Linked DNA regions of Homo sapiens. The protein of the gene in region 2 purifies or fractionates together with the protein of the main gene of each other region. This does not show direct contact. Each region holds a gene or a part of one and is shown on either strand. Other genes may lie near its edges.

Region 1 (7,432 bases), on a different chromosome or scaffold from region 2:
TCACCTCCTCCAGGAAGCCCTCCCTGCCTCTCTAGCCAAGGTCAGATTAGGCTTCTATTGCTCTTTCCTTCAGAGCACTGATCTCAGTTTGCACCTTCACATTCAGGAGTATGTCTAATCTGATTACCTATCACACTCCTGAATATCACGCTCCTGAACATGAAGGTGTAAGCTTTGCCTGAAGTCCCAGAGACACTCAGCAGCGGTGCAGAATTTGCACCTGGGTCTGTCTGGTTCCCACTCACCTATCACCACAGGGCTGCGGGTCAGAGCTCAGGATCCAGCACTTGAGACTGTCACTGCTCACCCTGTCACCAACTTGCTGGAGAGAGCCTGGGTCAGCTTCTGTTCACCACTGACTCTCCTGGGCCTGGCCAGAGTAGCTGTTCAAAAGGAATTCTTGACTGGAAATAATGAGCATCCGAAAAGGCATTTCAAGAAACAAATACCACCGCCCCCAAATGGAAGGCTATAATGTTCTTATTGTTAGCAAGAAAAATAACATGGCTATTATAGCTAAATTAACTAAATGGCCTGCCACCTGAGAATCTATTGTTTATGGCAAGACAGGGCCTAGGGACATTACATTACAGGCAAATTCTTTTTCCTTTTTCTTCATAGGTTTGCTCTGGAATTAGTCACAGAAAAGGGCCATACATTTGCCGAAGAGCTTCAGAAAGTGAGTAACACCATCTCACCCAAGCTGGGAATCTTCAGCCCCGGTGGCCATCACGGGACTCAGCATCCAGCCACCAGTTACTCTTTGTGTCACCTGGGGCTAGTTACTCTCCCTCTGTGAGCTCCATTTCTTCATCTGTAAAATGCGGACAGGCCAGGTATGGTGGCTCACACCTGCAATCTCAGCTACTTGGGAGACTGAGGCAGGAAGATCACTTGAGGCCAGGAGCCTAGGTAACATAATAAGACCCTGACTCTACAAAATATTTGAAAATTAGCCAGGCATAGTGGTGAATGCCTGTAGCCTTAGCTACTCAGGAAACTGAGGTAGGAGGATCTCTTGAGCCCAGGAGGTCAAGGCTGCAGTGAGCTGTGATCATGCCACTGCACTCCTGCCTGGGCAAGAGATTGAGACCCTGTCTCAGGCCGAGCACCATGGTTCAATTAAGCCTGTAATCCCAGCACTTTGGGCGGCCAAGGTGGGAGCATCACTTCAAGCCAGGAGTTCAAGACCAGCCTGGGCAACTTAGGGAGACCCTGTCTCTACAAAAAAAAAAAAAAATTAAAAATTAGCCAAGTATGGTGGCATGCACCCATAGTCCCAGCAACTTACAAGGCTGAGGTGGGAGAATCGCTTGAGTCTTACAGGTTGAGGCTGCAGTGAGATGTGATTACACCACTGCACTGTAGCCTGGGCAACAGAGTGGGATCCTGTCTTTAAAAAAAAAAAAAAAAAAAAACCTCTGTCTCCAAAACAAACAACTGGAGACATATAATCTTCCTTCACAGGCGAGTGGGGAGGATTGTACTAAATGAGGGAATTTAAAATGCAACGGTTCTCAACCCAGGGCCATTCTGCCCCTCAGGGCCCGCTGAGCAATATCTGGAGACATTTTTGGTTGCCACATCTGGGTGTTGGGGGTGTTGCTGGCATGTAAATATCCTGCAATGCAGGGGACAGCCCCCGTCAACGAAGAATGACCCGGCCTTGAATGGCAATAGCACCGAGGCTGAGAAAGCCGGTGTGAAGTGCCTCGCTCATGCCCGATGCAGAGGGAACCTGGGAAGCCTAGCTGCAGTGAGCCCTCAGCCCGTGGGACTCATGCGTCACAGTGTCACTGTTCTGTTCCCTAAGAAGGAGGGGGCCTCTGACCCACGCAGAGAACTTCAAGCACGGAGACAGGGTCACCACCCCAGAATGCCCAGGGTGCCGCACTTTCCACCTCCACATGGACCCAGGTCCCCAGAAACCGCTCCCCGCAGGGTCAGCCCTTCCCACTTCCGTTCTGAAGCCCAGGCTGGAGCCTGCTCAGGCCCCTGGGAACAGACGGAGGGTAGTAGGTGGGGCTGCCACAGGCTGTGGCTGCAGGAGGAAGCCTCAGCTGCCAGAACATTCTGTGTGGTGGAGGAAGGCTTTCAACCTCCTGAGGAGCCGCGGTAGCAGCGGTCATTTCTGTCTGCTGTACGCGTTGGGTCGCAGCTGTCACGTCACCTCCTCAAGGGCCTTCCCTGGCCACCTAATCTCCAGCTGGGTTAGGCACTGCTCCTGGATTTCCACATCCTCTAACCACAGGCATCACAAGGGGTGTTAACCTGTTCACCCATCCACCTCCCACCCAGCCTTGGCACTGTGAGGGCGGGGACAGTGTCTGGTTCACCTGGGAGCCCCGCCTGGCCTGGTAGCCGCTCGCAGGGCCTGTGGATGAGGCCGGGCAGCAATGCCACTGCTTTCCTCATATCACCCATTTCACCCTCACAGACACCCGTGAGGTGGAAGTTAATGTCCACAGCTTATAGGGAGCCAAACTGAGCCTCAGAAAGGCTGACTTGCCCAGCCCCCACAGCCAGGCATCAGTAGAGCTGGAATCTGATTCCCAAACTGGTGCCATTTCTCCCCAGCCCTTGGGGTACACGCTGCACGTGGCCAACCAAGTGGGTAGTATTATCACTCCCGCTTTGACTGTGAAAGTGCAGAGACCCCAAGCAGGGAAGCAGCTTGCCCAAGGTCTGCTGGTCAGAAGCCCTGGGAAGGTTCCAGCCCAGTGCTGGATGGGCAGCCTCTGCTCTCACACACCATGGCCTGCTTCTTGAATGCTGTCACAGTGGCCATCTTAGGAGAGGTCAGAAGTCGCAGACCTTCACCCTCCTGGTAGCCCACCATCCAGCTTGAGTGGACCCTGGCTGGGCACAAAGTCAGAGGTGGTACTTGTGGTCTTCACATGCATGAGAGCTGTTGGACATTTGTCATGCAGGGGCCTGGAGTCCTGCAGCAGACCTTAACAGACCACTTCTGTTCCAAGCAAACCCACTCCCCACCTGGACAGAGCACAGGCCTCACCCAGCCAGGCTTCCTGCTCCCAGAATCCCCACACGCCTCGGCTGACTACATTCTCCAAGCTCCTTGTCCTTTAGAGTTTAGAAAGCACTGTCACATTTGACCTCTTGGCCCAACTGTTACAGGTTAGAAAACCAAAGCTGTCAAATGTTGAGAAAAGAAGAAAACCTCACAGGGCCTAGGTGCACAGGAGACGTGGACAGAGCCCAGACGGTTCCTCTTGACTGTCCCTGGGTGTGTGATGCGTGTCATCTGCTTAACCCAGCTGCTGCCCCCATGGGAGCCTTTTCCTCCCTCAGACTGCAAAAGAGCCACACCAGGTCCCCCTCAGCAGGGCTGGGTGTCCAACGAAGATGTTGTGCTGAAAGTTCAGAGTTTGCTTTCAAATGTCAGCCAGTTCAAGGTCTGATAGCCTGTATTAGTCTGTTCTCGCACTGCTATAAAGAACTACCTGAGACCGGATAATTTATAAAGAAAAGAAGTTTAATCTGCACATGGTTTTGTGGGCTGTACAGGCTTCTGCTTCTGGGGAGGCCTCAGGAAACCTACAGTCATGGCGGAAGGCAAAGGGGAAGCAGGTACATCTTCACATGGCTGATAGGAGAGAGAGAGTGTGAAGAGGGAGGTGCTACACACTTTCAAACAACCACATCTCATGAGAACTCTATCACAAGACAGCACTAGGGGGCTGGGGCTAAACCATTCAAAACTACCCCAATGATCCAATCACCTCCCACCAGGCCCCACCTCCAACTCTGGGGATCACAATTTAACATGAGATTTGGATGGGGACACATTGCCAAACCATATCACAGCCCTTCATGAGCTAGCTGGCACAGGCTTTGCCGGCGTATTAGGTGGCGCCTCTGCACATTGTCTCTGTCCAGCCCATCTCACATAGATCTTGACTGTCACTTTCTGTCGCCCCCCAGATCCAGTGCACATTGCAGGACGTCGGCTCGGCCCTGGCGACACCATGCTCCTCGGCCCGGGAGGCTCACTTAAGTAATTCTCAAACTCCTGTGGGTGTTCAGAGGGCCCTAGGGTCAGGGGACTCTCCTAGGGTCACCATCTGGGATCCCAGGCCCCCAGGGACCCACGGGTGGGTCAGTTAGCCTTGCTCGTAGCTCCTGGGAGGGAAGGTACCTTCTGAGCCAGTGGAAGCAGTCTGCGGGACACCCAGGTGGAAGGGCGGCGGGGGTGGTTCCCGCCATGGTCTGGTGGGTGATGGCCTCATGGCAGTTCCCTCTGCTCCTTGGCTCCTCAGAGTATACCACGTTCAAGGCGGGGCCCATCCTGGAGCTGGAGCAGTGGATCGACAAGTACACCAGCCAGCTCCCACCACTCACGGCCTTCATCCTGCCTGTAGGTACTGGGCAGGCTTAACCGGGGGCGGCTGCAGGCAGGTTCAGTGACAGACACACATGGGCTCTGAATAAATCCCTCTTTTCACAGTGACAGACGCTGTCCTCCAGTTCCCCAAGTCCCTCCAGGTCCTCACCGGTCCCTCCCAGCCCTGCCCACTCTGGAGCAGCGTGCCCGGTGGGTGTGCCGTGGCAGGGCTCCTGGAGGCAGAACACTGCCCGGTTTGGGGGGCAGGGCTGGACTTCAGAGGAGCTCCTGTCCGCAGTGGGCACACCTTTCCCACCCTGCTCAGGCAATGTCCCTTTCTCCTTTCAGTCGGGAGGCAAGATCAGCTCGGCGCTGCATTTCTGCCGGGCCGTGTGCCGCCGGGCCGAGAGACGGTAAGAGGGCTGGAGAGAGGGAGAGGGCCCAAGGGAGAGGGAGAGGAACAAGGGGGAGGGGGGAGGGAGAGGGAGAGGAGGACGGAGATGGGGAGAGGGAGAGGGGCCTCTGCACAGCGGGCAGGAGGCAGGTACAGCAGGGCCATCTCTGAGCCATCCAGCCACACATCAACAGACCTTGTCTGGGCCCCTCCACTGTGCCAGACGGGGACCAGGACAGACCAAGTCCCTGTCCTCAGAGCACCATGTTGTGAAGTGGAGACAGTGACATGTGACCAAATAGACTATCAGACAACACAATTGCACCTTGTTTGTGAGCCCTGTATTCTGAGAACAGCAGGAAGTTATTGCTGGGTTCTCAGCCTCAGCCATCTTGGGGACAGGGGTAGACATGAAAGGACCCTGCTGGCTGCTGGGTGCATAAGGCTCCTGAAAGGCCTGCATGGCTGTGGGGAGCCCAGGTGGACGTTGTCAGCAGACTAGCCACCACCTCCTCCAAAGCTACTGACAGCCTTTTCAAGGAATCTTTAGAAGAAAATGAGCAAAGTCTCTATCTACACCACTCAGAGACCAGGCTGCCAGCCAGCTTTACAGAGAAGAGAAAGCAAGCCCTACTTTGATCCAATGGACTGGCACTTTATGTTCATAATTTCATTTACTCCTTGTTGATAGCCCTGGGAGAGAGGTGGTGGTGGCCTCTGTTTTACAGGAGTCAGGAAGCTGTGGCTCAGAGAAATGACACCATGGTCACGGTCCCCCACATGGTTGATAGCAGAATCCAGATTGGAGTCCACGTCTGTCTGGGCCAAGCCTGAGCTCTTCCACGGTCCCACACCACTAAGGTTTTGTTCTTTATGAAAGGCTCTCGGGCCCAGATAGCTCCTTAGAGATCCCAGGTAACAGAACAAGCTTTGGCTTCAAAAGAAAAAACTGTCATTTGTACAAAGCCATCCATCAGCAGTGCTCATAATAGCAAGAAACTGGAAACAACCCAAAGGCCCCGAAAACAGGCATGGCGGAGCAGCTGATAGGTCCTCCATGCAGCAGAGAGTTACGCAGCCATGGCAGTGGCAAGGTGCAGATTGTCCTGAGGTGGGGACACACACCTGGGGCACCTCGGGTGAGGAAGCTCCTCGCTGAGCATGCGGTGCCCACTAGAGACAGCCTGGAGCTCTGTGACAGGCCTGGGTGCACACCCTCCTGGGCCGCTAGCCGGGTGCATGGCTTTGGGTGGGGATGAGAACCCTGAGGCTGGGCTTTGGGTAGCTGGCTTGCCAACAAGGGGTATGCCACAGGGTGATACCTGGGAAAGGCTCGGCAAGGGCCCGCCACCACACTGGTGCCCAGCAGATGGCCGTCCAGTGTCTAATGTATCTGCAAATAGACTGGCATGGACCCCAGGAATCCAGAATCCTGCGGAATCAGGAGCTTGGTCTGCCTGGGTCTTTTTCTCCCCTGTGAAGTTGTTCTAAGTCATGATGTACAAGGGGCTTAGAGTTTAGCCCATTGGGAATTAAGGGTCAGGCCCCCACTTCCTTTGAAGGCTAGAGGCAGACCACCCCAACTTCACCCCACCCAGACCCAGGTCCAGTGGTACAAAAGCTGGCTGGCTGGGGTGTGGTGTAGGCCAGGTGGCTCCCTCAACTCACCAGCCATCCTTGATCCCTCCTTGGCCAGGCCGTCCTGCGATGTGCTGGTGGAAAGGGGGCCGATGGCCTGTTTAAACCCACCTGTGATGGATTTGTCATCTCCACTGCCGGCCGAGCCTGTGCAGGTTCAGGTTGAGCGGTGGCAGGATGTGAAATGCTGCTCAAGGTTTAGGCCCAGGTCAGAGCCTGTTGAGCCCCATAATGTCACGTGACTCAGTGTCTCCTCCCTTTCTAGTGTGGTGCCTCTTGTCCAGATGGGAGAGACCGATGCGAACGTGGCCAAGTTCTTAAACAGGTACTCGCGTGGAACCTGGGGGTTCCTCTCTGAAAGCCGAGGCTCATCTGTGGGAAGTAGCAGCGGTGCAGCGGTCCGGGAAGCAGTGTGGGGCAGCATTCCCGCACCCCCTCCTTCATTCCCTTAGTGTTTATGAACATCTGCTCTGTGCCAGGCACCACGCCGGGCACAGGGGAGGCAGTGGTGAACAAGGTGGGCCCTGTGCCTGTCCCGATAAGATTTAGATCTTATTGGGAGAGGCTGCTGTAAAAACCAGGAAGAAAAACCTAAGTGCAAAGTGGCATTGCGGGGGCAAAGGGCGTTCTTAGAGGCTGGGTGCTCAGGGGAGGCCTCTCGGTGGTGACTGACCAGGGAGCCAGGCTTCAGGCCCTCTCTCAGCCAGTTTCCTGTCCCCGAGAGGGCCTGCGGCAGCATGAACCAACAAGAGAGCCGGGCCAAGCTGCGCTCAGGGGACCCCATGCAGGCCCCAGTGAGCCAGGCTAGCCCAGGGAGGGCTTCCTCTGCCTCGCGGCCGGCCCATGAGGCTGGAGCCACACCTGGCCCAAAGCCTGCTCTGCGGGTTCCTGCCCCAGCCCTGGCTTCTGTGGCATCAGTGTGGGCAAGGCCAGAGCCTGGGGGCAGGTAGAGAGCTGGGGGAGCAGGTCTGCACCCCAGGAGCTGTCCTGGGTGTCTAGAAAGTGACCTCAGGCCCTTGACTGTGGCCACTCCTCCCAGAGACATGGCGCTTTGA
Region 2 (7,432 bases):
CGGGGCTGCAGCTTGGAGGGCAGGGCGGGGCTGCAGCTTGGAGGGCAGGGCTTGTCTTCTGCAGGAGGGCGCTCAAGGAGGGGATGGGGAGGGTTGAGGACTGCTGGGATTGGCATCTGAGCATCAGGTGGGGACTGAGCAGCAGTGGATCTGAGCCTGGCTACTTCAGGTCCCTGAGCCAGACACTGTCCCCAGGTACAGCAGGGTCCCGGGGAGTCCAGGAGGCGGCGGAGTGCGGCACTGTCTGGAGAGTTCAGTGTATTGCAGAGAGGTTGGAGAAAATCAAGTCTTGCACGTGGCGATGGCTCAAGATTCCCTGAGGTCTTCAGTGCTGACTAAGGAGTCTGAAATGATGATTCATGTTTTACCTTTGGGGCTGAGCCAAGTGCATCTCTTTGAGCAATCGTCTTAATTTCCTTGTCGTCACCAATTATCATAACCAATTATCATCGTAAAGGATGGTAATTCCTTTAATTATACCCACCTTAAAAACATGATTCTGTTCCACAAACGAAAGGAGCACATCAGAGATGCCTTCAGTTCTGTGTGCTTGAACTTTGAATTCCATGAATTATAGTTGCACTGAGGGGAGAATCCTGTTTCCATCCTCCTGGTTCCTTCTCCCTTTCCTGTCCCCATGTTTCTCTGAGGCCTGGCAATGCTCTCTGGATACTTGGTGAGTAGCCCAGGAGGACTCAGGAGTGAGAGGCCCCTGCCTCCTGCGCTGGGAGAAGGCTGTGGGTGGGCCGTGAACCCGGCCTTGAGTGGCAGGACAGTGAGTGTCTGCTGGTGTGTTCCTACAGCAGACGGACTGGACTGAGCCCTGGCTCATGGGGCTGGCCACCTTCCACGCGCTCTGCGTGCTCCTCACCTGCTTGTCCTCCCGAAGCTACAGACTACAGATCGGGCACTTTCTGTGTCTAGGTGAGTAAAACAACACAAACTCCACAACTCAGATCACTGTGTGAAATGAAACTGTGTATGTTCTGTCTGTGTCTTCGAAATATATACATATTTTTACAAGACCTCCCAACCCTCTGTCATGTGCCTGCTCCCAGGGCACTCCCGTTTTTCACTCTTGGAAGCTATAAAGAAAACTACTTTTTGGATGTTAGAGTTGAGAGGAATCTGTTGAGTTCCTGTTGCCTACCAGGGAGGTGCTGAGCACCAGCTGCACACAGGAGAGTTGGGTTTCCGGAAGTGCTGTCTTTTACACAAGATGCGTCCTTGGTGGCAGCTGTGCTCATGCACTGCTTTGAATGGGAGGAAGATTGCAAACTGGGAAAGAAAAGTTCTGTGCATAAAATAAGGCATTGCCCAACTTGGTTTCAAGGATAAGGGCTACAGAACTTAGAGAAGTTAGGGAGTTGCACAGGATGACTGAGAAAGATTATTCAGAAAAGCTGAAATCATGGCACAGGGTGTGAAGAGTGAGTAAAATGTTAATAAGAAAAGAGAGGGAGCAGGTGACGGCCCTGGGAGGGCAGCAGCCCGACATGCAGAGACTGAGATAGATGGAAGGTGTGGATCAGAGGCAGAGAAACTGCAAGCCCTCCAGGACCTAAGCACTTCTGATGCTGAGCGTTACGAACACGTGTGGGTAGAAGAGGCGAGGAGGGCCTGGAGGCCTGGCTCAGGCTACTCTTGACTCTCAACATTGGGGAGACACTGAAGATTTTGCTTGGTAGTTAAAAATAACTAATTTCAGATAAGTTTAGTTAGCTGGCTGTGTGCAAAGCGGGAAATCTGAAGAAGAGATGATCTTAGAAAGACTGGAGAAGTGATGAGGGTTTGCATCACAGTGGGGGCCTATGCAAGTGAGGCGCTCAGAGCAAGCTCTGTATTGAGGGTGCCCTGAGGAGTGCTGGAGTGGACCAGGCAGACAGGGCTCCTTTGCCTCCCACAGCTTCCTGGGGGACACCAGCACCAGTGATTCATCACAGACCTGTGTTATCAACAGTGACAAGTGTTGCAATGGAAAAGCCAAAAACACAGTGAAACAGGAGGAGCGGCCTGATTTAAATCACACAGTCCCCTGGGAACCCAGGGGCAAAAGGTGCATAGGCAGGAGCCAGGCAGTGAGATGCTGGCAGAGGGCAGGAGCAAGTGCCCCACGCAGAGGCCCTGAGGCAGGCATCTCAAAGAAAGGTGATGGCTTCACCAGCTGAGCTCCTGGATCTGAATAGCTTTGTCAGCTGGAGAACTGCACAAAGGGTTTGATGTTTTCTAGGATAAGGGGAAGGATGACTGCTTTCACACCGGGGTAATACTAGACACTGTGCTGCCTGCCATTACATTTCCTGTGATTCATTTCTCAAACCAGCCAAGAGTTGGATTTTATTTGCCCATTTTTATAAATGAAACATGCAGAGGTTCTCTAACTCCCTCAGCTATACAGCTTATAACCAGCACCATCAAGATTCAAGATTCAGACTCTGCTCCAGGGTGCATTTCAGGAATAGCTGAGGAGGAGCACCTGGTGACACCCTCCCTGCCCGCCTTCCTCCCGTGCCTACCACCCTCCCCACCTTCCCCCTGTAACGTCAGCCCTCCACACCTTCCTCCCCGCACCCATGCCCACCACCTCCTGTGTTAGCCTACCCTTCTCACCTGCCTGGCTGTCCTGCTTCTCCTGGCCCTCCTCCTTCCCCTCCTTCCTCTCCTTCCCCCCCATCCTCCCCCTCCTCCTCCTCCTCCTCCCTCCCCTCCCCTCTGGTTCTTTCCCTGTGCATTCTTTTCCTCTGCTTTATTGAGTCCATTCCTGAAGGGAGGAAGTGGAGGGACTGCTCACCGTAGCCCCTAGTTTAATCTGCTTTCTGATGTGTATCAAGAAGAATGAAAGGATTTTTAGTTTGATTTACCTTGGAAGTTGAAGCATCACATTTTTCTTAATTTGCCGAATCATATTTTATTTGATTTTATGGTACCATGGGTCACTGTCTCATGGGTTTGAGTACCAGCATTACCCACGAATTAGCTGAAGACCCTGGGCCAGTCCCTAAAGTCTGTGTGCTCCTGGGAGCATGGAGGCCTTGCCCTGCCCCCACCAGCTGCTGCCCTCCCTCCCGTGCCTTTGCCTCCAGCACCCCAAAGCTGTTCGCTCCCCTCCTATGGTCATCTCAGTGGCAGTGTCCCAAGGTCAGCCCGGGAAGTGTGAGCGTGAAAAGCCCTTGGTTGTCAGCTCTGGGTCTCGTGGCTCTCAGCTCCTGCTGCCGTGTTCTGTGGGGCTGAACTGTGGCTGCTGTCCCTGGGGAAATGTGTGAGGTCCAGCCATGCCTGGGTGAAGCCTGGGGCCTCGGGCGGCTCCTGCAGTAGCTCTGCAGGTGCTGACCTGAGCACGGGCTCTGAGTGAGACCATAGAGCATTGGAGAACTGAAGCACTGTTGGCCTTGATTTTCTTTCTGCTAAATGGGTGAGTCCTACGACTTGACAATGTTAGGATGTTTACCTGATGTTATGTTTAAAATTAAAGTGACATTTCTATTCAGTATTCTGCTGTAAAGAATGTATAACTTTATAACGAGTAATAACGGGCCATCTAAATTCTAATATGACTTGTACCTTTTTTCAGTCATCTTAGTCTACTGTGCTGAATACATCAATGAGGCGGCTGCGATGAACTGGAGGTGAGCCCACCCCCGGGCCTGTGACCAGGTCCCTGCAGGGGTGTCCCTGGGAATGGCCCCACAGCCGGTGGGACTCGCGGAGGAGACAGTGAATCCTAACGTGGCAGCTGTGCACAGCCCGTGCCCGTGCATCCAGGGTTGGTGGGCTCCAGGGTGACTCCGTAAATGCTTTACCAGCGCCACAGTGGCCCTTTCTGAGCGTGGCACTGTGGGACAGTGCTGGCTGAGGCCTCTGATGGCAGAGCCAGAGAAGTGGCCATGGGAATTTGAGCTGCAGAATAGAAACAGCAGCATTTTAGAGAACGTGGTCCGCGCTGGCCTCAGCCATGCCCTCCCCCTTGGACTGCAGGGTGGCTGCTCCATGGGGAGTCTGGACCTGAGTAGGGGGCTTCTGGGTGGTCTGGGGCACCTGCCTGCCTCATCCCCAGCCCCACATCCTGATGTCGGGGGGCACCGCTGGCAGCCCTGGCCCTGCGTCCTCTGCCCCCTCCTCTACCCCTGGCTTCATCCCAGGGGACTCGGAACCCAGCACCTGCCCAGGTTGAACCACACAGCCTCTGTCAAGTGAGACCCACGGACTGTTTTTGAGTGGCCTGTGAGCTAAAAATGGCTTTTACGTTTTAAAATATAAAACAGAAAAAAAGTAAAACTGCCAGACCCTGAGCAGGAAGGAGCTGAGACTGTGGCCTTGTGGCCCATAAGCCCTGAACACTGATCTTGGGCCCTCACCGAAAGGGGTTGTTGAGCACTCCCTGAAATCCTTTGCTTAGACCCCGCCTGGTTTCCCGAACCCTCCCCTGACTCGGCCTCCTCCTGCCTTGCTCCTCCCTGCTCAGCCTTTCCCTCCACGACAGCGTCCCTGCAGCACTGTCTCTGCCCTCCCTCCTCCCTGCCCTCTCTTTAGCCATAAGCGGCTCACTGGGGACCCTGCCTCTCCTCCCGGATGCAGGGCCTTCACATGGTTCAGTCCCAGGAGGACCCTGCCTCTCCTCCCGGATGCAGGGCCTTCACATGGTTCAGTCCCAGGAGGACCCTGCCTCTCCTCCCGGATGCAGGGCCTTCACATGGTTCAGTCCCAGGAGGACCCTGCCTCTCCTCCCGGATGCAGGGCCTTCACATGGTTCAGTCCCAGGAGGACCCTGCCTCTCCTCCCGGATGCAGGGCCTTCACATGGTTCAGTCCCAGGAGGACCCTGCCTCTCCTCCCGGATGCAGGGCCTTCACATGGTTCAGTCCCAGGAGGACCCTGCCTCTCCTCCCGGATGCAGGGCCTTCACATGGTTCAGTCCCAGGAGGACCCTGCCTCTCCTCCCGGATGCAGGGCCTTCACATGGTTCAGTCCCAGGAGGACCCTGCCTCTCCTCCCGGATGCAGGGCCTTCACATGGTTCAGTCCCAGGAGGACCCTGCCTCTCCTCCCGGATGCAGGGCCTTCACATGGTTCAGTCCCAGGAGGGGTGTTCAGTCCCTGGTGACCCTGACCTTGTCCAGAGGCTGGCACAGGGTCATCCTCCCCGAAGCCCTCCCACACCCAGCTCCAGGGTGCAGCACCTTTCTGGCCCCTCCCTTCCCTCTGGCCGCAGCCTCCTGTCTTCATGCTTCTCCGAGATCTCCTGGTTTCAAAAGCGCTGGGTTTCTTGCCTGTCCCACCTGTTGGACTGGGCACCAGGACGTCTAACAAACATCTCAAAATTCACACTTCAGTCCGACTGCTCTGCTCCCCCCTCTTCGTAGGGGCGGCTTCTCCCTCCAGCTTCTTAGACCAGAGACGTAACAGGGCATTGTTCAGGAAGCTCCGTCCCTCCACCTTTAAGATCAGCCACGAGCCCAGTGTGTTCCATGCCCTTCACCCCACCCTCGCCGACCCGCTGCTGACATGCAGCGGTCCCTAAGCCGTCCCCCGACTGCCCAGCCTCTTGGGCATCCTGGGGAAGCGTGGGCCTCAGAGCCAAGCACTGCCCCTCAGAACGTTCCAGAGTGTCCCCAGCTCCCCCAGAGTAAACGCGGAGTCCTGCAGTGATGCCCTGCGGCCTCCTGCCAGCTCTGTCCCAGCCGTTCATGGCTGTGCCTACGACTCCACGAGGCCCCCTCACCCCCGACAGGCTTCACATTTCTCTGTAGCAGCACTCGCCACATGCTTGGACTGGCTGCCTCTTACTTCTGGGCCTCCCATGGTATAGAGTGTAAGCGCCAGCAAGGCGGGAGCCCCATGCTCATGAGGTGTTGACCCACTGCCCACCATTACTAGCTGTGAGCGCCAGCAAGGCAGGAGCCCCATGCTCACAAGGCGCTGACCCACTGCCCACCATTACTAGCTTTGTTGATGGCATTTCCTGTGCTGGCTGCTGAGAGAATCATCAACACCCACGTGCAGATCCTCTGCCCTCCCTGGCGCTGTACCTTTGTGCAGGTGGAGATCTTCCGCCTTCCTCAGTCTCTTCTGCTAAAGAGGCACTGGCACTGACAGCAAGAGGACCTGCTATGAGAACCAAAGGGATGGAAGGGCCCGGCACCACTCCTTCCCAGTGCAGCTGTGGAGCAGACGCAGCTGCTGTCCCTTTGTCATTTACGGGGAGGGGATTATTGACGTTGTTACTCTGTAGGTTTTAAGGATTTCAAGTCATCAGTGTCTTCCAGCTAAGGTCAGATGTGCTGCTGATGACCCAGAGGGCTTGCAGGGTGACGTCTCTCTGCTGGGGGAGGCCTCGGGGTCTTTCCTGTGCTGCTGGGTGGTGTCTCCCTGTCCTGTGACCCAGTGTGTTTTCTTCATAATGAGCATTCATTGCATTTGGGACAGTACAGTGGAGATTACCGCTGCTCCCAAGGGTGGGCCCAGTGAGGGTGTTGCTCCCACCTCAGTCCACATCAGCTCTCTCCAAAGTCTTATCTAAATAGACGGTGTCACTAGAACTTTTTGGTTGTATTGCCTAGTAATTTTTTGTTTTTGTTTTTTAAACAGATTATTTTCGAAATACCAGTATTTCGACTCCAGGGGGATGTTCATTTCTATAGTATTTTCAGCCCCACTGCTGGTGAATGCCATGATCATTGTGGTACGTAGATGACACTTTCAGTTGTCTTTCTTCATGTGTATGTTTTTCAAATCTAAACATGTCTCAAACAATTGTGTTTAGGTTATGTGGGTATGGAAGACTTTGAATGTGATGACTGACCTGAAGAATGCACAAGAGAGAAGAAAGGAAAAGAAAAGGAGAAGGAAAGAAGACTGAGGGGCAGCAGCTGCTTGGAGTTTGCGTCCTTCCCGTCCACCCAGTGCAGCTCCCAGTGCTGCAGTGTGCGTGGCGTGGGCATCCTTCCAGCTGACTCATGGTTTGAAAAACCGTTGTTTTATTTAAATATCCACAGTGGTAGGGCACACACTGAAGTTGGCTTTTCAGCCAGCACTGAATGTATCCATCAGGACATGCGTCTTCAGGTGCCTGATCTTTGTAGTCAGGCTGTGGGAACGGTCTCTGCAGAGCTTCATAACTGGGAATTTGATTTGAAGAAGTCCATGTCATATGTGTAACTAGTACTAATTATAAATATAAAATACACAATATAAAATATGAAACTCAATAATAAACAGTGCCACCTGTACATGGGCACCATGCCCTCCTCCTCGTGCTGTGTTTTCTAGTGCATGCCACAGTTCGCAGTAGAGGGTGTTTTCACCTTCCAAGACATGGGGCAAAGTTTGGAGACACCTGGTTGTCACTGGAGGGGGTGGTGCTCCTGGCTTCTCCTGTGGAGCCCGGGGTGATGCATAAAATCCTGTGTGCCTGGGTCAGCCGCATCACAGACAATG
Region 3 (7,432 bases), on a different chromosome or scaffold from region 2:
GGAAGTTTTGAAACCTGTTTGGTAACTCAGACAAGTGCAGGGGCGAGGCGCAACCCTAGGAGGGAGAGAAGCTGCTGGAACCCAGCTCCTGCCTGGCGGGGCTTCGTGGCTGCTTCTACCTTAACTTCAGCCGGTGTTCTCACTCCCCCTTGGGGCTTGAGGTGTGGCCCGTGCTGTGCCTTCCTTTTATTTTGAGCTGAACCTGGGGCCCCAGCCAGTCCTTGCAGGCACAGCTACCAGCAGCAGGCCCCACTGTACCAGTCCCTTGCTCTGCGATGGGGCAAGTCGCTTGGGGCCTCTCTGAACCTCGGATTTCCTCTCTGGGAGATGGGCTAACACTAGCATCTTTTCTATGGCTTTTTTTTTTGAGACAGAGTTTTGCTCTTTCGCCCAGGCTGGAGTGCAGTGGCATGATCTCAGCTCACCACAACCTCCACCTTCTGGTTTCAAGCGATTCTCCTGCCTCAGCCTCCCGAGTAACTGGGATTACAGGCTCCCGCCACCACACCTGGCTAATTTTTGTATTTTTAGTAGAAATAGGGCTTCGCCATGTTGGCTAGGCTGGTCCTGAACTCTTGACCTCATGATCTGCCCGCCCCAGCCTTCCAAAGTGCTGGGATTACAGGCGTGAGCCACTGCGCCCAGCCTTCCGTGGCTTTGAAAATGCTTCGTAAGTTATCCCAGGCCCTTTACGTACAGAAAGATGAGTAGATACCGACATGCAGTGTCTGCAAGGGTCAGGAAACAGGAGAGCCCCGCCTTCCTCCCCAGCCTAAACATTGCTCACCCACGCTTGTGTTTGAGTGTCCCTGAGTAGGGCAGCTCCTTGGTGGCCAAGGCAGCGCTCTGGCCCCGATGATGTGGGGCATCAGAACCCGATAGAAATGACGCAGCCCTCGAGGTGAGTGTGGCCGGAACCCAGCTGCCCCACAGCCCCAGGCACTTGTGTTCTGTGTCCCTGGTCTGGGCAGCGGTTCTTGAATGCAGCTGTGGATCAGGACCCCGGGGCCTGTTCTTGCACATTCCTGGGCCCCATCTGCCTTTGCAGTCTGCATGGGATCCACATTTTTAGCAAAACCTTGCGGGGAGATGTCTGAGGCAGGGGCATCACTGCCCATGTTTGGAGAAGGTGTGTGGGTTCAAAGCTTCCATAGCCTCCTACTAAGGAATGTTTTCGAGGTTCTGAGAGCTGGGTCGGGGGGGCACTGATGATGCCAGGGACAGCCTGCTGGGCACAGCCCCAAGACAGTCCTTGCTGTGTCTCCACTCGCCCCCTTCCCAAGGGAGGCCTCCGAGACCCTTCTGGGGCCCCCTGCCTCCGCTGGCCAGAGCTCCTCATCCTTCTCAGTGGGGTCTGTGCCACCCACCGGGCCTTTGTTCCGTCAGCACCATGTGCCCAGTGCCTCCTACAGGCCTGGTCCTGGCAGAGAGCTGGGAGTCCAGACAGAGCCATCTCCCTGACAGAACGCCATCCAGTGGGGCATCGGGCAGCGTAGCGAGGTGAGGGGCTGGCCTCCATGTGGGGTTGGGCCTCGCCAGGTTAAGGGCTCCAGGCAGAGGCATTGGCAGGTGCCAGGCCCAGGTGGGGAGGATGCGAGGGATTGAGGCGCTGTGGGGCATGGGCCGGCACCAGGGTGGACCTGGGTGTGCAGTGGAAGCCAGGGGTCAGCAGACCCGGCCGCCCCCATGGTGGAGGTGCCACGAGAGGGTTGTGCACAGAGGCTGCCGGCTGCCCTCATCCACTCTTCAGACACTCAGACTGGCGCCTGCCTCCGCCCTTGTGCCGCCATGCTGCTCCCCTGTGGCCAGCTCTGCCTCATCATTAGGTCTCTGCAGGCATCCCCTCCTTCAAGAAGCCACCCTGGCCTTTCCCCCATCGCTGTCCACACATCACAGCCCTCTGCTGTCTTGACTTCCCCTGAGCCCCCCACTCTGGTTTATGGGTTGGTGCATTTTGGTGCCTCTCCCATCCTAGAAGCTAAGCCCCTCGAGGGCAGGGGCTCTGTGGTCTGCTCCTCTCTGCATCCTGGCAGATATGTGAGAAAGGCGTCACAGCTCGAGAGTCAGAATTCAAACCCAGGCCTGGCTCCGCGCGAGGCCCTTGTTCCCATGGAGGATGCAGGGTGGACAGCAGAGGCTTCTAACCTGGGGAGAGGGACAGGAGGCGCCACTGCGGGGTTCCTGGCAGGAGCTGCCTGGGCCTCTGGACAGATGCTGTGGAGGGTTGGCCGTGTGGGCTGCAGGTGTGGCCACAGCAGCCACTAGGATGGCTCAACCTTGGAAGGTAAACAGTAGTAGAGAGGGTGACGCAGTGTAGAAACTTCCCACACACTTCCCAGATGGGGTGGGGGGAGCAAGAGGCCCTGTCGTCCAGGTTTTCCTGGTTTCCACCGTTGCTGTAGGGCTGCAGGATCCACTGAGTGCACCTGCCTTTGTGCTGGAAGCCAGGGCTCCTCTCTGACCCTGAGGGTCCCTGGCTCTGGGGAGGGAGCTCGCAGGGCTCCTCTCTGACCCTGAGGGTCCCTGGCTCTGGGGAGGGAGCTCGCAGGGCTCCTCTCTGACACTGAGGGTCCCTGGCTCTGGGGAGGGAGCACTGTGTTTTCAGTGCCCACATGTTGCCAAACCGCGCTCCAGAAAGCTGCCCAGTTTCTGTCCCTGCCGAACGCAGGAGAATGCAGGGAAGGATGTTGTACTTTTTCTCCAGAGCTGCTTCCCTTGAGGGGGGCCCCTGCCTACAGGTCAGAAGGAAGCTGAGGTTCCAAGTCACCCCCCAGGCGGGCCTGGCCTGTGTAACACGCAGGCGTGCAAGGCAGAGGAGATACTGATGCCCAGGGCACAGTGCCGTGCCCTGGAAGACCACTCCGTGCCTCGGACTCTGCAGCAGCTTCTGATGCCGCGGAGGTGGCTGTTCTGTTGCAGACGGGAAACTGAGGCTTAGCGGCTTGCCCCAGGCCACCGAGCAGCTGGTTGGCAGAGCAGGCACACGCCAGGAGAGCTGCCTCCCTGAGCCTCATTTCCCCCTGTGCTGAGGGCTGGGCATGCTGTTGTATGGCCAGCCCACAGCAGGCAGGAAGTGTTGGCCTCAATGCGTTTCCACAGTGGCCTGCCCAGGTAGGGTTAAGAGCACAGCTCTGAGGCCGGCTGACTCCTGGCCCCTCCACCTCATCAGCTGTAGGACCTTGGGCAACTCACCTGGCCCCGTGTGTGAAATGGGCCTCATGATGGGAAGACCAAGCCGACGGGGTGACGCACCCAGTCACAGTACGGGTCTCCCCCCAGCGTGGGCGCTGGCGAGTATGGCAGCTGTTGGCGCCATCATCTCTGTGGTCACCGCCATTGCACTCCTTTGCTCCAGCATTCACGCAGTCACTCTCACATCCTCACGGAGCTGCTGCAGGCCAGAGTCCATGCTGGCAGGGACAGAAAGAAACCCTGTGAGGGCTGGGCACGGTGGCTCACGCCTGTAATCCCAGCACTTTGGGAGGCCGAGGTGGGCGGATCATGAGGTCAGGAGATCGGGACCATCCTGGCTAACACGGTGAAACCTCATCTCTACTAAAAATACAAAAAAATTAGCCGAGCGTGGTGGCGGGCACCTGTAGTCCCAGCTACTCAGGAGGCTGAGGCAGGAGAATGGCGTGAACCCGGGTGGCGGAGCTTGCAGTGAGCGGAGATCCCGCCACTGCACTCCAGCCTGGGGAACAGAGCGAGACTCTGTCTCAAAAAAAAAAAAAAAAACAAACCCTGTGAGGAGCAGGTGTTGGCTGGGAGAGCAGGCGTGTACATGAGCCAAGTGTGCAGTGTCACTTGGTGGGTGTTGAGTGTCAGGGAGATGAGCAGGGAAGGGGGACAGGGCTGGCCTCCCAGACATGCAACCAGGACATTCGTACCGGGCCCTGCTCTTGATCGCATGCTCCGCCGTCGTGGCTTCAAACTCTCAATCATTTGAAAACAACCATTCAAGATTTTTATTTTTGCACCAGCTCCGGGGATGTGGGGTGTAGGGCTGGGATGCGGGGGTGCAGTCTGGGAAGGCCTTGCTGAGAAGGAGACATGGAGTGGAGGAGGGAGCCTGGTGGTTAGTGCAGACAGTCAGTGCGAAGGCCTTGAGGCGGCAGCATCTGGCCAGGTGCTGTTTCTGTGCCCATCTGACCGATGAGGAAAGTCGGGGCTCGGGGTGGGGGGCGGCACGCATCGTGTACCCCACTGTTCTCCCAGCTGTATTCCCCAACTCCGTTCTGGCCCTAACCTGCTCTGCTTGGCCCCACAGGCTGACCCCGCACTACATCTACCCACCAGCCATCGTGCAGCCCAGCGTGGTGATCCCAGCCGCCCCTGTCCCGTCGCTGTCCTCGCCCTACATTGAGTACACGCCGGCCAGCCCGGCCTACGCCCAGTACCCACCGGCCACCTATGACCAGTACCCATACGCCGCCTCGCCTGCCACGGCTGCCAGCTTCGTGGGCTACAGCTACCCTGCCGCCGTGCCCCAGGCCCTCTCAGCCGCAGCACCCGCGGGCACCACTTTCGTGCAGTACCAGGCGCCGCAGCTGCAGCCTGACAGGATGCAGTGAGGGGCGTTCCTGCCCCGAGGACTGTGGCATTGTCACCTTCACAGCAGACAGAGCTGCCAGGCCATGATGGGCTGGCGACAGCCCGGCTGAGCTTCAGTGAGGTGCCACCAGCACCCGTGCCTCCGAAGACCGCTCGGGCATTCCGCCTGCGCCCTGGGACAGCGGAGAGACGGCTTCTCTTTAATCTAGGTCCCATTGTGTCTTGAGGGAGGACTTTAAGAATGACTGAGAACTATTTAAAGACGCAATCCCAGGTTCCTTGCACACCATGGCAGCCTCTCCTTGCACCTTCTCCTGCCTCTCCACACTCCAGGTTCCCTCAGGCTTGTGTCCCCACTGCTGCATCGTGGCGGGGTGTCACAGACCCTCTGCAGCCCCTGGCTGCCCTGGACTGTGCAGAGATGCCTGACTCCAGGGAAACCTGAAAGCAAGAAGTTAATGGACTGTTTATTGTAACTTGATCCTCCCGAGCTGTGAGCGCAGTCTGAGGTGTGAGGACACGGCCTCCTGTTGGAGTCCCATTTTCTCCATCAGGGCACGTGGGCGGCTTCCTCAAGCCCGGAGGAGCTCCCAGGCGCACAGGGGCCGCCGGTAACAGGGGCCGCCGGCCAAAGGCCCCTTTCCAGTCATAGCACTGAAGTTGCAACTTTTTTCTTGTAATTGTTTTGCTACTAAGATAATTTCAGAAGTTCAGTCTATTTTTTCAGCGGATACTGCCGCCACCAAGAATCCAAAACCTATTTTTGACTTGGAGAGACTTGCTTTTGTTGGTTCCGCCCGTGGAGACGACGATAGTGTTTCTGTATAATAAAGTGTCTGCCGGCTCGCGGGCCAGGATCCTCTCGGTGGGATGGGCACCACAGACAGGAGGCCCCTCAGGCCCGTGCGGGCCACTGTCTGCTGCCGCCTGCCGGGGTGGCAGAGTGAGTTGTCTCAGGACCCCGTCACTGCGACGTTGACACTCCTCTCCCTTCCCTTCCTCCCCAACTCCCCAAACACTGTGGAAGGGGAGAAGGAAGTGATCCACAGCATTCAGGCCACTTGGGGTCTAGACCATGGTGGTGCCAGCCTGGGGGGGGCAGTGGCCCTCAGCTCTGCCCGCTGGAGCGGTTGAGTGCAGAAGGGTGCGCCTCTTCCCTCTACCCCCGCACCACCTGCTGTGTGCCAGCCTGAGACGGTTCCTGCCTGTCTTGGGGGTTGGTGGAGGGTGGAGGCAGTTCTGCCAGCCGTGGCAGGGCTGCTATGGGGCATCCAGGGCTGTGGGGGTCTGGAGGAGGGGACATGAGGTGAGAGGTATCCTGGCCGAGGGCGGGGGGCAGCGGGGGGTCTCCCTCCGGACCTACCTCAGGGAGCTGAGCGTGCAGGCGCTCCAGGGCAGGCCTGGGACAGAGTCAAGGCTCAGAGAATAAAGGTAGCTAATCTCATCATAATATTTTTATTAGAATGTTCTGATGATAAAAATAAAACTTGTTTTCTTTAAAGAAAAAGTTGATCTAATTTTTCTCAAAACGCAGAGCTCCCCTCGTGCCTGTGGGCATCACCCATGCCCCGCCCTCCTGGCTCAGGAACCCAGGATTTCACTGGCAGCCGTGCATAGAGCGCCTGGCCTGCACCGGCCGCTGAGCCTCAGTAGCAGAACAGACGCAGCCCCTCTTCACACCCGCTAATGCAGGGGAGGCCTGGCGTCCCAGCCGCCGTGCATCATCCAGCATCAGCTTCAGACCCGGAGAGGACTGCGCTTGGGTTACTTCTTGGCGCTGTGGCTGGGGAGGGGCCTGGACGTGGATTGTGATTGGCAGCCCCACCAGATCCCTGTGGAATAGGAGGACAGTTCCCCCAGAGAAGGGGGGTTGCCACCAGAAGACCCTGAATGTGGGTTCCTGAGAGGACGTTGGCAGGTGTCCAGGACAGCTGCCCTTAGGGTAGAGTTGGGAGGGAAGCCTTGGTCTGGGGCTGGATAGTCCCAGCATCTGGAACTCAGAGCTGGGGAAATCACAAGGCCTTCATAGAGGAGGTGTCAGGGCTGGAGAATCCATCAACTCCTTCCTTGAATTGCTCACTCACTGTGTCATCCCGAGACGTGTGCTGGGTCACACGCAAAGCGCTGGGGATAGAGCAGACAGGGCTGCCCTTTGGGTTTATCATCTGCTGGGGGAGACACAACAATGCCCCAGGGTGATGGAGACTGACAGGTTTACGGCAGGGAGGGGATAGGGATTCTGTGGGGGTCTGCACTTCTTCCCAGGCCCTGCCGGCTGGCCCCTCCCTCCCACTGTCTCAGTTTGCAAACGCTTGTGAGGGGTCAGGGAGGGCAGCATGGGGCTTTCAGCCCGGAGGAGGAGACTTGCTGCAGCTGATAAGAACTTGGGGATCCACGGAGGGGGGCTACGGGTACTGCCAGGGTTATCGTGAAGGCCACTCGCAGCCTGCAAGTTTCCTGTCACTATCAGCTGGTGACAGCCTCTGGGACAGGCCTTCGGGAAGGCCCTGAGGCCTTGAAAACATCTCCTGGGTCCCAGGATTGAAGGCTCTGGATAGTGACAAACCCAGGAGAGGGAATTTCTAAGTCACCGAGTTGGGTGGGGAGAGGGGCCGGCTGAGGGCAGCAGGGATGCAGAGCGCGGCCACCAGCCCCAGCAACAAGGGTCATAAACCCCAGCACTGCAGCACCAACATCTGCCGCCACTGACTCAGGTCCCCACGCTGTGCCACGCACTTTCATGGATGGTCTCAGTTACCCTCCAGGTATCTCCATTATCAGACCGGTGAACTAAGATGCTTAGGAGTGGAGCCCACATTGCCTGGGCCCCCAAGAGATGCGGTGAGAGGGGCTTGCCTGGAGCTGAAGGGCGTGGGCC
Region 4 (7,432 bases), on a different chromosome or scaffold from region 2:
CAACCATATTTTTAAAAATGTATTCAGAAGAAAGACTGAATGGAAATTAACTACACACATTTAGATGTTTGGGTTCAAAAAAAGCCACAGACTGTGACAAGATATTTAACAAGGAATTAGTAAGTAGAATATGTAAATAACTCACATACATGACTTGGCAAGACATGCAGGTCAAATGAAAACCAAGCAGTGGATGTCAGTAGCCCGTCACAGAAGGTAAAACCAAAAAAGCCAGCAAACACCAGACGCCTGCTGCAGTTTTCAATAGAAAATACAAATTAAAACAACAGAATTGACAATCCCAAGTGTAATGAAAACATGTAAGGAACTGACTTTCATAGGCTGCTGGGAGGAGTTTAACTCAGGCAAACCCAATCTGAAGAGCAATTGGGTAGTTTCTAGTCAAGTTTTACATTCAGACATCCTGTGATGCAGCAATTCCACTTTCTTTGTATATATATATTAGAAACATAGAAGTTGTCATATTAATTACATACTACTGTTGCATTTTGTTATCTCTGGTTTTACCCAAAAGCCTGTTGTGTCTTTCAGGATTGTATTTGCTGACTTCTTTATAATGAATCTGATCCTCTGGGGAGAAGGATCTTCAGCAGCTATTCCTTTTGGGACACTGGTTGCCATATTGGCCCTTTGGTTCTGCATATCTGTGCCTCTGACGTTTATTGGTGCATACTTTGGTTTTAAGAAGAATGTAAGTTTATAGGTGTTAACTTATTCAGGTGAATTTTAGCTGCAGAAATTAGCATATGCCATCTCAAAAGATACCATAAAAGTGTGTAAAGATGTAAACTTGTCCTTTAGGATCTGGATTTCATAGAATATTTTTAAAATAGTAGTATTATTTAGGAGCGTGGTAGAGAGGTTACAGATCTAAACTTAGGTTTCAAAGTTTTTTAAGTGAATAGAAGCTAATATAGATTAATTGGGAAAGAAATGCTGATATAAACTAATGAAAACATTCATTCATTCATTCATTCATTCATTTAGAGATGGAGTCTCATTCTGTCACCCAGGCTGGAGTGCAGTGGCGCCATCTCGGCTCACTGCAACCTCCACCTTCAGGGTTAAAGCGATTTTCCTGCCTCAGCCTCCCGAGTAGCTGGGATTACAGGCATGTGCCACCACACCCAGCTAATTTTTGTATTTTTAGTGGAGACAAGGTTTCATCACGTTGGTCAGGCTGGTCTTGAACTCCTGACCTCAGGTGATCCACCTGCCTGGGCCTCCCAAAGTGCACAAAGCTTAGCTAAGTAAGCAGAGAAGAAGTCACTGTAAGAAAAGTAGCTGCAGAGTAAGAGTAGCAAATGTTTGTGGTTGATATGTAGCTTTGAAATAAATTGTATCTGCTGGAAATAAATTGTATCTGCTTCCCTGCTAATATTGGATTTTAAGGAAGATTATAATCAGGTTTCAGTCCTTCCTCCAGTTTCCCTCTCACCCTCCAGTCGGCCTTCTCTCACTTTGCTGCCCACTCCTGCCCTCAGGCTAAAAGAAAAACAAAAACGAGATCTTATTCTTCTGTCTCATCAGTATCCTTCTCTAACCGCACTTCAGTATCCCTGTCCTCTGAAAATATCAAGTCCACAGGGTAAAAGAAAGACTGTGTGGTTAGTACACTTTGTGAGCAGGACCCGGAAGGCCCTGGCAGAAGCTGGCACTGTTCCACAGCCTCCACTGCACTTTCATGCCTGGCTGCTGAAGGATTTTTTTAAACTTCTTCGGCATTTTGTTTAATTTATGACTTTATACCTCAGAAGTAGTGAACTGACAGGGTTTGAATTTTTTAATTACATTGATTAAACAATTACTTGAAATTCCAAAACTTTGCTGGTTTGAAGTTTATAGTATTTCTATTTAATATCAGCCTTGGAAATAAATAAAAGTTGATATACATGATTCTCTGCCTGTATACTCATGCATCTACATGTAAAATAATAATCTAGTCTGTGGAAGTATGGTCTTAATGAAAATATCAAGTTTTAAATTTTGGTTTATCATCACAAAAACTATAGAAGGATATTTTTGAACTTTCTTACAAGGAAATGACTTTCTACATCTGTACTGTCTTCCCCCCTCATGTGGCTGCTTGTGTCCTTTAGGTTCCAGTGATTTTTATACCGCCATGTAGTGTGTCATGAAAGGGAGAATAGTCGAGAACATCACCAACTCCTTATGGTCGTAAAGCTTCATACAGCCATTCATTGTTGTTTTCATGTTCTTAAGTCTTAGTAAAATTGAGCAATTTTAGTAAAGATGACATTGCGCACCTCCAAATAAAAATACATGGACCAAAATTCCAGAACCAGCTGATTTCTTACAGTACATGTGTAATGAAAATGAAAAGCCTAACTCTACCTTTTTATTAACTATTATTTTCCAAGTATTCTCTTATCTCCTGTGTACTTTTTCCTGTGTCTAAAGCCATTAGTCAGTAGATCACTGCTGGAGACAGTATTAACTTGTTCCAGTAGACAGACTGAGTATTGTACCTGATGGTACCTGGATGATGGCTTCCAAAGACAAATTTCAGTTTGATGTCTTAAGTAGACTTTATTGCCATTAGTGACAACATAGAAGCTGAAAAAAAGCAGGCAAATAATCTCGTGTAGAGAAGAATATTTGAGACAGATACGTAATTATGAATTCTTCCTTCCTTTTTTTACTGAAGGCCATTGAACACCCAGTTCGAACCAATCAGATTCCACGTCAGATTCCTGAACAGTCGTTCTACACGAAGCCCTTGCCTGGTATTATCATGGGAGGGATTTTGCCCTTTGGCTGCATCTTTATACAACTTTTCTTCATTCTGAATAGTATTTGGTAAGCTAAGGATAAAGTCCTCTCATTCTCATTACCATTATATGTAATATTTCCTTTTTGTTTGTTTATATGGGTTACTATTTGTATCCTGTAAATGTAAGCAGTTCTTCAGTAACCAGAAATCTTAAAAGCCAAAAGCTTATTTTTATCTTTTCCATGTTGGAAGAAGAACAATAGTGATAACAGCTAGTATAATATGAATTCAAGGCTTGTTAATTCTTACTCTTCCTTAATTCTTACTACTTCATTCTCTGTGAGGTGAGTGTTATCCCCATTTTACAGAGCTGTAAATGAGGCTTTGTAAGTTGAGTAATTTGCTTGTGTTACACAGCAACCCTGTGACAGAAAATTCACCGAAGTTTCTCCAAACCTATGTTCCTAACTAATCTGCACTGTTCAGAGAAGATCCTCTGAGCACTTGTCGGAGGGGATTGGTGAAGGGATTGGTCTAGGTGACCTGCAGAGTCCTTTGCAATTCTCAGATGCCTTCATTCTCCGATTGCTTGTTCACATGTAAAAACTCATAATAGTCATTTTGAGCCATTCTGTGTGTGTGTATATCTATATATAGTGTTATATCATGATTGTTATTGGATCACATTGACGTATGTTACAGGAAGTACCAAGGTTGGAGGTTACAGAAAGTTAGAACTAAATTTGAGCTTTTTAATGATTAGAACATATCTTTGCTTCTTAATCGTTATACTAATTTTCCAAATTCAACTGGTTTTATTATATGTGATAAGAAACGGTTACCTATTCTTAGTTGGCTCTGCCTTTTCAGTCACTTTTTATCAAATATCTCTGGCTCACCAGGAGACGAGTAGTCTAGCCATATGTAAATAAGTAGAAGTTTCAGGCCTCCCTGAGCAGGAAGGTAAAGTCCAGTGATACTGACATATCCTTCCTACTCCTCCCCTTCCCCACCCCATCACCATCCCAACCTGTGATAATTCGTCTTGTTTGGTTAGTTGAGAGAAAAAGCAAACCTTTTCAGTTCAAGAAGAATGAAAAGATTGTGTTATGTATTGTGTCAAATTGAAAATATTTATAGTTCCTTCTTGACGTGTTTGATTATAGGTCACACCAGATGTATTACATGTTTGGCTTCCTATTTCTGGTGTTTATCATTTTGGTTATTACCTGTTCTGAAGCAACTATACTTCTTTGCTATTTCCACCTATGTGCAGAGGTATGTATTAGCAGTATTCACTTATGTTAATTTGTAGACAGTAACTTTGGCATATTGCAATTTGTATATTATTAATTAAAATAATTTCTGTAGATGTATGTTTATTATGATAGACATTGACCTGTATTCCTAAATCAAATGTAACCTTCTTTAGGATTAAGATATCCCAGTTCAGTATATTTAGTTGGAAATTACTATTAGAGACTTTAACTTGTTAATTTTCTGAGAATAGTATGTTGTGCTAACTTTTTACTGTTGTTTTTTAACTGACTTAAAAATTAATACTTTTGTGATACAAATATTTATATCATGCCTGAGATAAAAGAATATAAAATAATCTATTAAAAAATACAAAAAAAATTTTAGACTGAAAATTTAATAAAAGTAAACTAGTAAGAAAATTCATTAAAAAGTTTCTATAATCACATTGTAATGAGTTCTATTCATGGCAGCACCAAAATGATAGTATCCTTATGTAATAGGTAGAATTGAATTTTAAAGATTTAGGTTGTGTTAAATCTACTATTTAATATTGTCTATATTGGAGAAAAAGCTAACTTTATTAAACTTAGTGTGTTATTCAAAAAATGGAGGTTAAATTTACATAACAGAAAATGAACCATTTTGAAGTGGACAGTTTAATGGCACTTACTGCATTTACAGTGTTGCGCCACCACCACCTCTGTTTAGTTCCAAAATATTTTTATCACCCCTAATTAAAGCCCTATACTTGCTGAGCAGTTGCTCCTCATTCCTCACTTCCCCCAGGCCTTAGCAGCCAACGGTCTGCTTTCTGTCTGTTTCGCCTGTTCAGACATTTCTTACAAATTGAATCATATAATATGTGACCTTTTGTGTGTGGCTTCTTTGACTTAGCATGTTTTCAGGGTTCATCATATCATGGCATGTATAGTAGTACTTCATTCCTTTTTTTTTTTTTTTCCTTTTTTTCTTGAGACGGAGTCTCGCTCTGCTGCCCAGGCTGGAGTGCAGTGGTGCAATCTCAGCTCACTGCAAGCACCACCTCCCGGGTTCATGCCATTCTCCTGCCTCAGCCTCCTGAGTAGCTGGGACTACAGGCGCCTGCCACCATGCCTGGCTAATTGCTTCTTGTATTTTTGGTAGAGACGGGGTTTCACCATGTTAGCCAGGATGGTCTCGATCTCCTGACCTCGTGATCCGCCTGCCTCGGCCTCCCAACGTGCTGGGATTACAGACGTGAGCCACCGCGCCTGGCCACTTCATTCCTTTTTATGGCAGAATGATAAATTTGTTTATCCATTTATCCATTGGTGGGCATTTGTATTGTTTCTACTTTTTGGCTGTTGTGAATAGTGCTGCTGTGAACATTCATGTACAAGTGTTCGTTTGAATACCTGTTTTTGGTTTTGAGGTATATATCTAGGAGTGGAATCACTGGGTCATATGGTAGTTCTGTTCAATTTTTTGAGGAACTACCAAACTTTTCCACAGTGGTTGTGCCGTTTTACATTCCCACCAGCAGTGGTGTACAAAGGTTCCAATTCTCCGTATCTTTGCCAACACTTACCTTCCATTTTTGAAAAAATTGTAGCTGTCTTCGTGGGTGTGAAGCGGTGTCTCATTCTGGTTTTGATTTGCATTTCCACAGTGACTAATGATGAGCATTTGTACTTGTGTTTGTTAGCCATTTGTATATCTTCTTTGGAGAAATAGCTATTCAAGTCCTTTGCCTATTTTTAAATTTGTTTGTCTTTTTGTTGAGTTGTAAGAGTTTATTTATTTATTCTGAATAGTAGATCTTTATCAGATTGTTATTTGCAGTTCTGGTTCTATAGGTTATCCTTTTCACTTTCTTGATAATGTCCTTTGCACAAAAGTTTTAAATTTTGATGAGGTCAAATGTATCTGTTTTTTTTTCTTCCGTTGCTTATGCTTTTGGTGTCATATCTAAGAATTATTATCAAATTAGGGCTGAGTGTGGTGGTTCACGCCTATCTCTAATCCCAACACTTTGGAAGGCTGAGGCGGGAGGATCGCTTGAGCCCAGGATTTTGAGACCAGCCTGGGCAACATAGTGAGATCTTGTCTTTATAAAAAATAACAAAATTAGCTGGGTGTGATGGCTTACTTGGGAAGCTGAGGTGGAAGGATCACTTGAGCCCAGGAGGGCTTCAGTAAGCCATGATTACACCACTGCACTCCAGAACCTGGGCAACAGAGTGAGACCCTGTCTCCTACCCCACCCCCGACCAAAAAAAAGAATTATTGCCAAATTCAAGGTTATGAAGATTTACCCCCATGTTTTCTTCTAAGTGTTATAGCTTTACCTCATGTATTTAAGTCATTGATCTATTTTGAGTTAGCTTTTGTATTTTGTGTGATGTAGTGTCCAGCTACATTATTTGACGTGTGGATATCCAGTTATCCAGCACCATTTGTTGAAGAGGCTGTTCTTTCCTCATTTAATGGTCTTGGCAATCTTGTCAAAAATCAATTGACCATAGATGTATGGGTTTATTTCTGGACTCTCAATACTATTCCAGTGGTCTATATGCTGCCCTTAGGCCTGTACCACACTATTTTGATTACTGTGGCTTCGTAGTAAGTTTTGAAATCAAAAAGGCTGAGTCCTCCAGCTTTGCTCTTTTTTATGATTGTTTTGACTATTTGGAGCCCCTTGCAATTCCATTTGAATTTGAGGATTAACTTTTCCAATCTGCAAAAATTGAATCATTGGATTATTGGAATTATGATAGGGATTACATTAGATCTGTAGATCATTTTGAAGAGTATTGCTGTCTTAACAGTGTTAAGTCTAATAGTACGTAAACATGGGATGTCTTTCCATTTGCCTAGGTCTTCTGTCATTTCTTTCAGCAGAATTTTAGAGTTTTCATTGTGCAAGTCTTCCACTTCCTTGGTTGAATTTATTCCTAGGTATTTTATTCTTTTGGGTGCTATTTTAAATGGAATTGGGTTTTTAAATTTTCTTCTCAGATTGCTCATTGCTGGTGTGTAAAAACAAAACCGACTTTTGTATGTTGATCTTATACCCTGCAATTTTGCTGCATTTGTTGATTAGCTGTTGCATTTTGTGTGTGTGTGTGTGTGTATGTGTGTGTATTTAGGATTTTCTAGTCTCAGTTTGCTTTTCGAATATATTTGTTTTTCACATATTCCAAAGGGCAAGAGAGATAGTGAAGTGTTCTCTTTTAAAAGATCTTCTGTTAAGCTATAAGCCACTTAAAAGCAAGAAGAGCTATTTTAATCATCTGCCTTGTTTAAATTATGTTAGTAATAGCTGAAATTGGATTCCAACCAGGCCTTAGTAGAATAATCTTCTTCCTAATACAGAGTTGACCAGACTTTAATACAAGTAGTATTAATGTCGAGCCCTGTGAGTAAGTTGTAAGCTAT

What was found.
Region 1: the proteins of TMEM18 (region 2) and MMAB purify together in Homo sapiens (affinity purification with mass spectrometry; one large-scale study listed by BioGRID and IntAct). This does not show direct contact.
Region 3: the proteins of TMEM18 (region 2) and RBM38 purify together in Homo sapiens (affinity purification with mass spectrometry; one large-scale study listed by BioGRID and IntAct). This does not show direct contact.
Region 4: the proteins of TMEM18 (region 2) and TM9SF2 purify together in Homo sapiens (affinity purification with mass spectrometry; one large-scale study listed by BioGRID and IntAct). This does not show direct contact.

Annotation. Positions count from the first base shown.
Region 1 is NC_000012.12:109,558,366-109,565,797, reverse strand, and holds part of MMAB (corrinoid adenosyltransferase MMAB precursor), read left to right. Parts: intron 1-621; coding exon 622-679; intron 680-3,945; coding exon 3,946-4,018; intron 4,019-4,280; coding exon 4,281-4,378; intron 4,379-4,468; coding exon of another isoform or gene 4,469-4,555; intron 4,556-4,693; coding exon 4,694-4,758; intron 4,759-6,642; coding exon 6,643-6,702; intron 6,703-7,432. UniProt on the Homo sapiens protein: Converts cob(I)alamin to adenosylcobalamin (adenosylcob(III)alamin), a coenzyme for methylmalonyl-CoA mutase, therefore participates in the final step of the vitamin B12 conversion.
Region 2 is NC_000002.12:669,002-676,433, reverse strand, and holds part of TMEM18 (transmembrane protein 18), read left to right. Parts: intron 1-195; exon of another isoform or gene 196-658; coding exon of another isoform or gene 659-676; intron 677-803; coding exon 804-924; intron 925-3,571; coding exon 3,572-3,626; intron 3,627-6,583; coding exon 6,584-6,677; intron 6,678-6,758; coding exon 6,759-6,854; 3' UTR 6,855-7,432.
Region 3 is NC_000020.11:57,403,273-57,410,704, forward strand, and holds the end of RBM38 (RNA-binding protein 38), read left to right. Parts: intron 1-4,270; coding exon 4,271-4,574; 3' UTR 4,575-6,061; downstream 6,062-7,432. UniProt on the Homo sapiens protein: RNA-binding protein that specifically bind the 3'-UTR of CDKN1A transcripts, leading to maintain the stability of CDKN1A transcripts, thereby acting as a mediator of the p53/TP53 family to regulate CDKN1A.
Region 4 is NC_000013.11:99,551,615-99,559,046, forward strand, and holds part of TM9SF2 (transmembrane 9 superfamily member 2 precursor), read left to right. Parts: intron 1-552; coding exon 553-712; intron 713-2,689; coding exon 2,690-2,841; intron 2,842-3,921; coding exon 3,922-4,033; intron 4,034-7,432. UniProt on the Homo sapiens protein: In the intracellular compartments, may function as a channel or small molecule transporter.